2 separate regions of the Homo sapiens genome follow, and region 2 is linked to region 1. The links come from fine-mapping of genetic effects on gene expression. A gene starts in region 1. The other region holds a variant in brackets. All regions are shown on one strand. Distances are between the middles of the regions.

Region 1 (5,380 bases):
GCCCAATGTTACAGTTAATGAGTAGCAGAACCAGGATTTGAACTGAGTTAGTACAGCTTCAGAACTTGTGCTTATAACATCTACATGTTTGATGAATGAACGAAGGCAATGTTAAGTCAATAGGAACGTTAGTTGGCTTGACAGTTATAATTGAGTATGTCCATCTTTTAAAAATTTTATTTAAAAAAATTTTTATTTTTTTTATTCTATCTACCACAGACTGTCTGAGTATCCGTCTTTTTTGAGCTTGGTTAGTATGAGTCCCATTTCCAGGATCAAAGCAGAGGACTCTGATGCTTGCTCCAAGATATCACGACCCTGAGAGGTCTCTCCAGCCAGCCTGCCTCTCTGGGCTCTATCTCAATGGCATTTCAAAGCCCAGGACTTACCATCTGCAGGTTCCTCCAGGTTATCATGCCAAGACATGGGCTTCCTGGTGACTGTATGAACTAGAAAAAAAGAAAACAGCTTCACAAGTTCAGATTAAAACATGAGTTCCCTGCCCTCTCTAAGGTCCACCTTAAACAGGGCACCCATTTGGCACTCACTGAGTATCTGGTACATGCCAGGTATTATCCTGGGTGCTAGGATAATGCACGATTGGATAAGGCCCTCAAGAACCTCACAATCTAGAGTGGCACTGCCCAGAATGGTGGTCATCAGCCACATGTGGCTCCTTGAATTTGAATAACTAAAATTAATTACAATGAACACTTCAGTTCCTTAGCCACGTTAGTCACACTTCAAGTGCTCAATAGCTGCAGGCGGTTAATGGCTACAGTTTTGACTACAGCCAAGACAGAGAACATTTTCATCACTGATGAATTCTCTTGGACAGTGCTGGCCTATGGGGAAGGCCAAAGAGGTTTGCCAGGCAGTGATCTATGCCCAGGAGGGCACATGGTAACAGAGGAGCAGCACCCACATTCATCCACTCAGCTCATAATTACTGTGCACTGAAGAACAGGCTGTAAACAAGACAGAGCTGGCTCTTGTGTCCCCTGAGCTTTTACTCTATTTGTGGTGACAGGCAATAAACATACATATATCACCCGGCAAATGTAAGTGTGATAGAGAACAGTAAAGCAGGTTACGTGGATGGAGAGTTGGCGTTGGGGCTGGGGTGTGGGTGATGTATCTCTAGGGAGATACATATGAGCAGAGTTTTGAATGAAGTGAGGGAATGTGCTGTGTGTGTGGGAAGCATATGAGCGTGAGCCTGGGGAGTTTGAGAAACGTCAAGAGAGCCAGAGTGGCTCCAGTGGAGTGAGCTGGATGGAGAGTAGTGGGAAATGAGCAGACACCAGTAGAAACCAGTGGTCTCCAAGCTGCTTGTCTCAAACTCCTATCAGTAAAAGAACTTTAGAGCATGCGCCCTTAAAATATGTATAATTATATAGTTTTTATGGACTATTATCAGTATATTAGCAAATAAAATTTCTATCTTTATAAATAAAAGTAATCAATACAAGTTGTAATATTTTCTCACTTTATTCCAATGGCTCACATGCTCAAGGGACATGAGCTGGGAGGCAGCATTTTCCCTAGAGAGCATGAAGGTTGCCTGAAGAGATTATTTCCATTATTTGGAATGGACCGAGTTTGAACGGCTTTGGACACTAATTTGCTTTCCTGAAACTAGTGGTTGGGGACTCCAGAAGAAAACCAAGTTAGTTAGAAGGAAAGTGAAGACAGTACATTTTCTCTATAGAGCCAGGCAACAAAGTGGACTTTACATATTAGGCACAGAGTTGGGAGAGGCATTCAGGAAGAAGCAACAATGTTTATGCAGGTAAAGTGGGAAATGACATGATGCATTTAGGAAATCCATGTATTTAGAAATGGCAGGGGGGAAAGGAGTGTGTGTGGGATTCGTCAGCAATGGCTGGTGCAGAGTAGGCACCAAAGTATTTCTTAAAGGAGCAGGGTAAAGTGGGGGAGAGGAGTATGGCATGAAGCTGGCAGGAACCAGAGCCAGATCCAATGCGCCTTATGTCGTGATTGATTTAAACTTTACCTCAGAGGCTATGAGAAGGATTTTAGGTGGGATTGATGTGATCTAATTGTCCTCCTAGCATAGTGCTAAGCTAGCAAAGGTGTAGGGGTTTGGTCGGAGGGGCCAGCTTGGAGGGAAAGAGAATAAGGAGTTGGGAGCCCATCAGACCAATCCAGGCGGCAAGGACTAGGGCCCTGCAGAGGCTTCAGGAGTGAGGATGCAGGCAGAGGCTGTTTGAGGTGCTACTTAGAGCATGAAAGTACCTGAGCAGAGGCAGAGAGGAATCCATATGCATGATGGTGTCTTTCACTGAAGCAGGAACAAGTGGGTCAGGGGAGAGGAATGTTAATAAACAGGACTTGTGCCTTTTTTTAAGTGTGTGGAGGGAGAGAGACCTTGAGGAGGACTCCGAGGCTTCTAATGATCATGAGATCATTAGATGATGAGAGTGAATGATTCTGATCATGAGAGTGAATCATCCGGGGCCTTTTGCAGAGACAGGGTATTCTGGAGCAGCAGAGAGTGGGGAAGGTGGGAATGAGCCTGGCTTTCCTCCTGCTGGGTCTGAGGTGCCTGTGGGTTGTCCAGGGAGGGGAGCTGTGAGGTGGTTGGGCGTGTGGATCTGAAGCTCCATTTCAGGCCCAGTGGCATTCAGGGGAAGCTGGTGTGACAGGACAGAACAAACTGCCCAAGGAGAGTGCTCAGTGACAAGAGTGGAGGGTAGGGATGTTTTATCAGGGGGCACCCCAGAACTTTCCGAAGGGCAATATCAGAAGCCTGAAGAAAAACCTTTCACTTGTTAAAAACAACCCAAAATACAAACAAAAACAAAACACAAACAGCCTGCAAAATATAATTATTTCAAAAGTAAAATAATAAAAAGCCCTACAACTTTTTTTTTTCTACAACGAAAAGATTTAATCGTGTTGCGCATGAACTTTAATACAGCGAATACATCTGATATGATGTGGCCTCTCCAAAGTCATGGTTCCTGAAATCTAGGAAAGGGGGCGGGTGCTGGGGAAAGAGTTTTTGCTGGGACCGCGTTCCCACCCCGCAACCCGGAGGGCTCCTCCTTCCCCGGCGCCCTCCCGCTCTCGCCCTTCCCCCACCCCGCCGTGCCTCTCACTCTTGCGGAGGGGATTCACGTGATACTGCGTGTAGAGTTTCTGGGTTCGTAGCTCCTTGAGGTACAGTTCCCGCAAGATCTGGTTCTGATGGACCTCATCTGGAATCACCTTCTCTTTTGGGTGTCCCGCCATGGCCTTGGGCTGCCACGCGCCCTCTTGCCTGGGCCTTCCACAGTCTCCAGGCAACGCGTCCCCGCTGTCTCCAGGCAACGGCGTCCCGTGGTCTCCAGGCAACAGCGCTCGGGTAGTGCTGCCCGGTCGGGGCGGGTCTCACTCTGCCAGCCCCTTACCCTGCCTGCATCGCCCCGCCCCGCGCCCGCCGGTCGGGATCTTATTTCGCGCCCCGCCCTATTCTGGCACTGTACTCACTTGCCCCAGCTCCTCAGGCCCGGCTGGTTACTAGAAGGTCCCCTGGATACCGCCAGGAAAGGGCTTCCCGGCAAGGGGCAGACCCAGGAGGTAAGGGACAGATGATTGGACCTCACCTTGGCCAATCATTTCCTAAAAAAGCTTTTGGAAGGAGTCAGAAACCTCTCCCACCTTAAAGCAGATGCCCAGAATCAAAACCTCACAAAAAAACCGGAGGTTTCCTCTCTGAGAAAACGTTCTGGCCAGTGTGACCAAGATTACCAATGTGATAATATTGACAGAATAAACCTTTCCTAATTAAGGAACTTGTTGACTTTATAGTTTATTTTTAATGTTTGTGTTTAAAATGCACGTAATATAATTTTACCATCTTAGCCATTTTTAAGTATTACAGTACAGTAGTATTAAGTATATTCAAACTATGTGAAACCAATCTCCAGAACTTTTTCACACCCATTAAACAACAAGTTTCCCTTTTCCCTTCTCTCCAGCCCCTGGCATTTCACTTTTTGTTTCTATGAATTTGAGTCTGCTAGATACCTTAAATAATGTAGTTTATTTTAAAAGAATCGCCGAGCACGGTGGCTCACGCCTGTAATCCCAGCACTTTGGGAGGCTGAGGCAGGTGGATCACCTGAGGTCAGGAGTTCGAGACCAGCTTGACCAACATGGTGAAACCCCATCTCTACCAAAAATACAAAATTAGCCAGGCGTGATGGCATATGCCTGTAATCCCAGCTACTCGGGAGGCTGAGGCAGGAGAATCGCTTGAACCCGGGAGGCGGAGGTTGCAGTGAGCCAAGATTGCGCCACTGCACTCCAGCCTGGGGGACAGAGCGAGACTCCTTCTAAAAAATAAAAAATAAATAAAAAGTAGGTCTAGCATAAAGAAAGAAGCCACCCCTATTTTTAGTAAGCACCTAAATACTGTCTGAAGACTGTGCTCTTCCCCACTCAGTACTTCATTCATTCATCCATCCATTCATTCGCTCAGGACACAATGTGAATTGCAGAATGGGTTTAGTCTGGGACACAGTGTTGAACAAAATTTTTAATTGGATTGTTTATCAATTTGTTGGAGTTCTTAATATATTATTTTGAGGGCTGTACATGCTGCAAATGTATTTTCCCTCTGTGTGGCTTGCCATTTTAGTCTCTTAATGGTGTCTTCTGGACACCAAAAGTTAAACGTAGTCAAATATATTAGTCTTTTCCTTTATGATTATTGCTTCTTAATTTTCATTTAAGACATCTTTTTCTAATTTGATGACCTGAGGTTACTTTTATGTTACTTTTTAGAGCAGTGCTGTTCAATAAAAGTATGAGCTGAGCCACTCATGTAGTTTAAAACATTCTAGTATCTGCATTAAGAGAGCAAGAATTAGATAAAACTAATTTTAATAATGTGATATTTAACTCAGTATATCCAATTTGTCAATGATTCAACGTTTGAATATAAAAATTATTGAGATATTTTACATTGTTTTGTCCTACTAATGTTTAAAATCCAGTGCAGATTTTACACTTCATAACACATCTCAAGAGCTCCATGGCCATCTGTGGGCAGAACTATTAATATTTAAGAGGATTTGTTGTTTTACCCTTTCTCAGTGAGATCTGTATTCCACCTGAAATTGGTTTTCGAGTGCAGTGTGAGGTAGGAATCCAGCTTAATTTTTTCTTTCCAAAGGAGTATCCAGTTGACCCACCAGCAAATTATTGAAGAGATAGTCCTTCCTCACTGGTCTGCTATGCTACTGTGTCCATAAAAAAAGTGTCCCCATTTGTGCAAGTCCATTTCTGGACTCTATTCTGTGCCATTGGTCTATTTGTCTAAGCTTGCAACAGCACTACACTATCTTAATTACCATAATTTATGTAACAC
Region 2 (5,380 bases), 41 kb after region 1:
GTTTCCTGAGGCCTCCCCACCCATGCTTCCTATATAGCCTGCAGAACCATGAACCAATTAAACCTCTTTTCTTTATAAATTACCCAGTCTTGGGCAGTTCCTCATAGCAATTCAATAACTGACTAATACAGAAATTGGTGCCAGGAGTGGGACATTGCTATAAAGATACCTGAAAATGTGGAAGTGGCTTTGGAACTGGAAAACGGGCAGAAGTTGGAACACTTTGGAGGACTTAGAAGAAGTCTGGAAGATGAGGAAAAGTTTGGAACTTCAGAGAGACTTGTTAAATTGTTGTGACCAAAATGCTGATAGCGATATGGACAATGAAGTCCAGACTGAGGTGGTCTCAACTAGAGATGAGGAGCTTATTAGGAACTGGAGTAAAGGTCATTCTTGTTATGTTTTAGCAGAGACTGGCAGCATTGTGCCCCTGCTCTAGGGATCTGTGTAACTTTGAACTTGAGAGTGATGATTTAGGGTATCTGGCAGAAGAAATGTCTAAGCAGCAAAGTGTTCAAGATGTGGCCTGGCTGCTTCTAGCAACCTATGCCCATATTTGTGAGCAAAGAGATGATCTAAAACTGGAACTTATATTTGAAAAAGAAGCAGAGCATAAAAGTTTAGAAAATTTGCAGCCTGACCATGTGGTAGAAAAGAAAAATCCATTGTATTAGTTCTTTTTCATGCTGCTGATAAAGACATACCCAAGACTGGACAATTTACAAAAGAAAGAGGTTTAATTGACTCAGTTCCACATGGCTGGGGAGGTCTCACAATCATGGCAGATGGCAAAAGGCACATCTCACATGGCAGCAGACAAGAGAAGAGAATGAGAGCCAAGTGAAAGGGGTTTCCCCTTATAAAACCATCAGATCTCATGAGACCTGTTCACTACCACGAGAACACTGTGGGTGAAACTGCCACCATGATTCAATTATCTCCCACTGGGTCCCTCCCACAACATGAGGGAATTATGGAAGCTACAATTCACGATGAGATTTGGGTGAGGACACAGCCAAACCATATCACCCATTTTCTAGGGAGGAATTAAAGCCAGGCTGCAGAAATTTGCATAAGTAAAGAGGAGCCAAATGTTAATAGCCAAGACAATGGGGAAAATGCCATAAAGACATTTCAGAGACCTTTGCAGCAGCTCCTCCCATCACAGGCCCAGAGGCCTGGGAGGGAAGAATGGTTTTATGGGCTGGACCCAGAGCCCCACTACCCTGTGCAACCTCAGGATGCTGCTCCCTATGTCTCATCTGCTCCAGCTCCAGCCATAGCTAAAAGGGTCCCAGATATGTCTCAGGCCACTGCTCCAGAAGGTGCAAGGCACAAGCCTTGACAGCTACCACATGGTAAGAAATTTGTGGGTGCACAGAGGGCAAGAGTTGAGGCTTGGGAGCTTTCACCTAGATTTCAGAGGATGTATAGAAATGCCTGGAGGTCCAGGCAGAAGTCTGCTGCAGGGGTGGTGTGCTCATGGAGAGCCTCTACTAGGGCAGTGCAGAGAAGAAATGTGGGATTGGAGCCCCCACACAGTCCCCACTAGGGCACTGCCCCGTGAGAAAAGGACCACCATCCTCCAGATCCCAGAATGGTAGATCCAGTGACACCTTGCACTGTGCACCTGGAAAAGCTGCAGGCACTCAATGCCAGCCTGTAAAAACAGCTGAGGGGGGCTGTATCCTGCAGAGCCACAGGGGCAGAGCTTCCCAAGGCCTTGGGAGCACACCCTTTGTATCATTGTGGCCTGGATGTGTGACATCAAGTCAGAGGAGATTATTTGGCAGGTTTAAGATGTGATGAGTGCCCTTCTGGGTTTTGGACTCGCATGGGGCCTGTAGACCCTTTGTTTTGTCTGATTTCTCCCTTTTTAAACAGGTTTATTTATGCAATACCTGTACCCCTGTTGTATCTTGGAAGCAACTAACTTGTTTTTGACTTTACAGGCTCATCAGTGGAAGGGATTTACCTTGTCTCAGATGAGACTTTGGACTGTGGACTTTTGAGTTAATGCTGAAATGAGTTAAAATGTGGGGGACTGTTGAGAAGGGATGATTGGATTCTGCGGTGTGAGAAGGACATGTGATTTAGTAGAGGCCGCAGGCAGAATGATATGCTTTGGATTTGTGTCCCTGCTGAACTCTCATGTCAAATTGTAATTCCCAGTACTGGAGGAGGGGCCTGCTGGTGGGAGGTGACAGCGTGCTGGCAGCCCTTGCAGCCCCAAAGCTCACTCTCGGTGCCTCCTCGGCCTCAGTGCCCATTCTGGCCATGCTTGAGGAGCCCTTCAGCCCAC[T/C]GCTGCACCGTGGGAGCCCTTCTCTGGGCTGGCCAAGGCCAGAGCCGGCACCCTCGGCTTGCAGGGAGGTGTGGAGGGAGAGACACGGGCAGGAACTGGGGCTGCGCGCAGCACTTGCGGGCCAGCTGGAGTTCCGGGTGGGCGTGGGCTTGGCGGCCTCACACTCAGAGTGGCTGGCCGGCCCTGCTGGCCCAGGCAGTGAGGGGCTTAGCACCTGGGCAAGCAGCTGCCGATGGTGCGCCGGCTCCCCCAGCAGTGCTGGCCCACAGCGCTGCGATGGATTTCTCACCAGGCCTTAGCTGCCTCCCCACAGGGCAGGGCTCGGGACCTGCAGCCCGCCATGCCTGAGTCTCCCACCCCCCATCCACGCCCCCGCCCCCCACCACCCCCACACCCCCCCATTCCCCACCACCCACCACCCCCCCGCCCCCCCACCACCTCCCACCGCCCCCCTACCCCCCACCACCCCCTGCCCCCCGCCCCTCACCACCCCTCTGCCCCCCTCCCTCCCCCGTGGGCTCCTGTGTGGCCTAAGCCTCCCCGACGAGCACTGCCCCCCACTCCATGGCACCTGGTCTCATCTACCACCCAACGGCTGAGGAGTGCGGGCGCACCGCGTGGGACTAGCAGGCAGCTCCACCTGCGGCCCTGGTGCGAGATCCACTGGGTGAAGCCAGCTGGGATCCTGAGTCTAGTGGGAACTTGGAGAACCTTTATGTCTAGCTAAGGGATTGTAAATACATCAATCAGCACTCTGTATCTAGCTCAAGGGCTCAAGGTTTGTAAACACACCAATCAGCACCCTGTGTCTAGCTCAGGGTTTGTGAATGCACCAGTCTGCACTCTGTATCTAGTTAATCTGGTGGGGACTTGGAGAAACTTTATGTCTAGCTAAGGGATTGTGAATGCACCAATTGGCGCTCTGTATCTAGCTCAAGGTTTGTAAATGCACCAATCAGCACTCTGTGTCTAGCTCAGGGTTTGTAAATACACCATTTGACACTCTGTATCTAGCTAATCTAGTGGGGACACGGAGAACTTTTGTGTCTAGCTCAGGGATTGTAAACGCACCAATCAGCACCCTGTCAAAACGGACCAATCAGCTCTCTGTAAAACATACCAATTGGCTCTCTGTAAAATGGACCAATCAGCAGGATGTGGGTGGGGCCAGATAAGAGAATAAAAGCAGGCTGTGCCAGCCAGCAGTGGCAACCAGCTCCAGTCCCCTTCCACACTGTGGAAACTTTGTTCTTTCACTCTTTGATATAAATCTTGCTGCTGCTCACTCTTTGGGTCCACACTGCCTTTATGAGCTGTAACACTCACTGCGAAGGTCTGCAGCTTCACTCCTGAAGCCATTGAGACTACGAACCCACCGGGAGGAAAAAACAACTCCAGACGCGCCGCCTTAAGAGCTGTAACACTCACCACAAAGGCCTGCAGCTTCACTCCTGAGCCAGCGAGAACACGAACCCACCAGAAGGAAGAAACTCCAAACACATCCACACATCAAAAGGAACAAACTCTGGACACGCCGCCTTTAAGAACTGTAACACTCACCGCGAGTGTCCACGGCTTCATTCTTGAAGTCAGTGAGACCAAGAACCCACCAATTCTGGACACACTGGGAGGTGATTGGATCATGGGGGCAGATTTCCCCCTTACTGTTCTCATGATAGTGAGTTCTCATGAGATCGGGTTGTTTAAACATGCTTAGCACTTCCACCTTTGCTCTTTTCCTCCTGTTCTGGCTATGTAATATGTTCCTCCTTCCACTCCACCTTCCGCCATGATTGTAAGTTTCTTGAGGCCTCCCCCACCCATGCTTCCAGTACAGCCCATGGAACCATGAGCCAATTAAACCTCTTTTCTTTATAAATTACCCAGTCTCAGGTAGTTCTTCATAGCAATGTGAGAACTGACTAATACAGACTCCCACCTCACATAATATATGAGAATTACCTCAAAATGGATCAAAGATCTCAATGTAAAAGCTAAAAATAGAAAGCTCTTAGGTAGCTGGATGTGGTGGCATGCACCTGTAGTCCCAGCTAGCTGGGGGCCTGAGGAGGGCAGATTGCTTGAGCCCTGGAAGTCAAGGCTGCAATGAGTTGTGTTCATGCCACTGCATTCCAGCCTGGGTGGCAGCGGGAAACTGTCTCAAAAAAAAAAAAAAAAAAAAAAATATATATACACACACACACACACACACACACACACACACACACACACACACACACACACATATAAATGACATAAAATAAAGCTCTTAGAAGAAAATAAAGGGTAAATCTTCATGGCCTCAGATTAGGCAATAATTTGTTAAATCTGACCCAAAAGTACAAGCAAAAACAAACAAACAAAATAGACAAATTGGATTTCATCAAAATTAAAACTTTTACGCTGCAAAGGACACCATCAAGAAAGCAAAAAACCCATAGAATGGGAGAAAATACTTGCAAATTATATATCTGATAAGAAACTTATATCTACAATATACAAAGAACACTTACAACTCAATAAGGAGACAAATAAACAAATGAAAAAGTAGGCAAAGATCTGAATAGACATTGTTCCAAAGAAGATATGCAGATGTCCAGCAAGCACACGAAAAGATGCTCAACACCATTAGCCTCCAGTAAAATGCAAATCAAAAACACCATGAGATACTACTTCACACCATTAGAGAGTGTGGGGGAATTTATCTTAAACATGCTTGTTTACTAATGTTGACAAGGAACTGATTTTTGATTATCCATGTGCATAACACACCCTGGAAGGGGAACTACAAATGTTAATTACCTACAGGTTGTGTGGGCTCCAGGTTTTCCACACTGTGCCTGCACTGAATAAAAGCAAGCAGTTCCAGCTTCTCAGGGCTGCTCTCTGGCCACTAGAGCCAGGCAGTCACTTAGCTGCTCTTACACTGCATACCTGTGTCTGAGTACTCATTTCATCCATCGGGCAGGGTCTGTGGGACAGACACAGCAGCAAAAGAGGTGAATATTGTAATTCAGAGGTCTGGTGCAGTGGCTTATGCCTGTAATCCCAGCACTTTGGGAGGCCGAGGCAGGTAGA

Alleles and levels. Positions count from the first base shown, and alleles are read on the strand shown. Sizes are in standard deviations (SD) of each study's normalised expression.
In carriers of allele T in region 2, the expression in iPS cells of the gene that starts at base 3,306 in region 1 tends to be lower than with C alone (large effect, 0.87 SD a copy in iPSCORE).

What was found. PIP is the estimated chance that this variant, and not a neighbour inherited with it, causes the effect.
Region 2: its variant is the best candidate, but not a certain one, in a credible set for the expression of CFAP144 in iPS cells (iPSCORE, PIP 0.74).

What each region holds. Positions count from the first base shown.
Region 1 is chr1:43,145,830-43,151,209 of GRCh38, reverse strand. CFAP144 (cilia and flagella associated protein 144) reads right to left here and starts at 3,306. Exons shown (of 4, transcript NM_001101376.3): 1 at 3,126-3,306; 2 at 390-449. The coding sequence starts at 3,258.
Region 2 is chr1:43,104,891-43,110,270 of GRCh38, reverse strand. No RefSeq gene overlaps it. Among named protein-coding and RNA genes, the nearest start is that of CFAP144, 40 kb to the left of the region's middle. The variant T/C (reference allele first, on the strand shown) is at 2,303.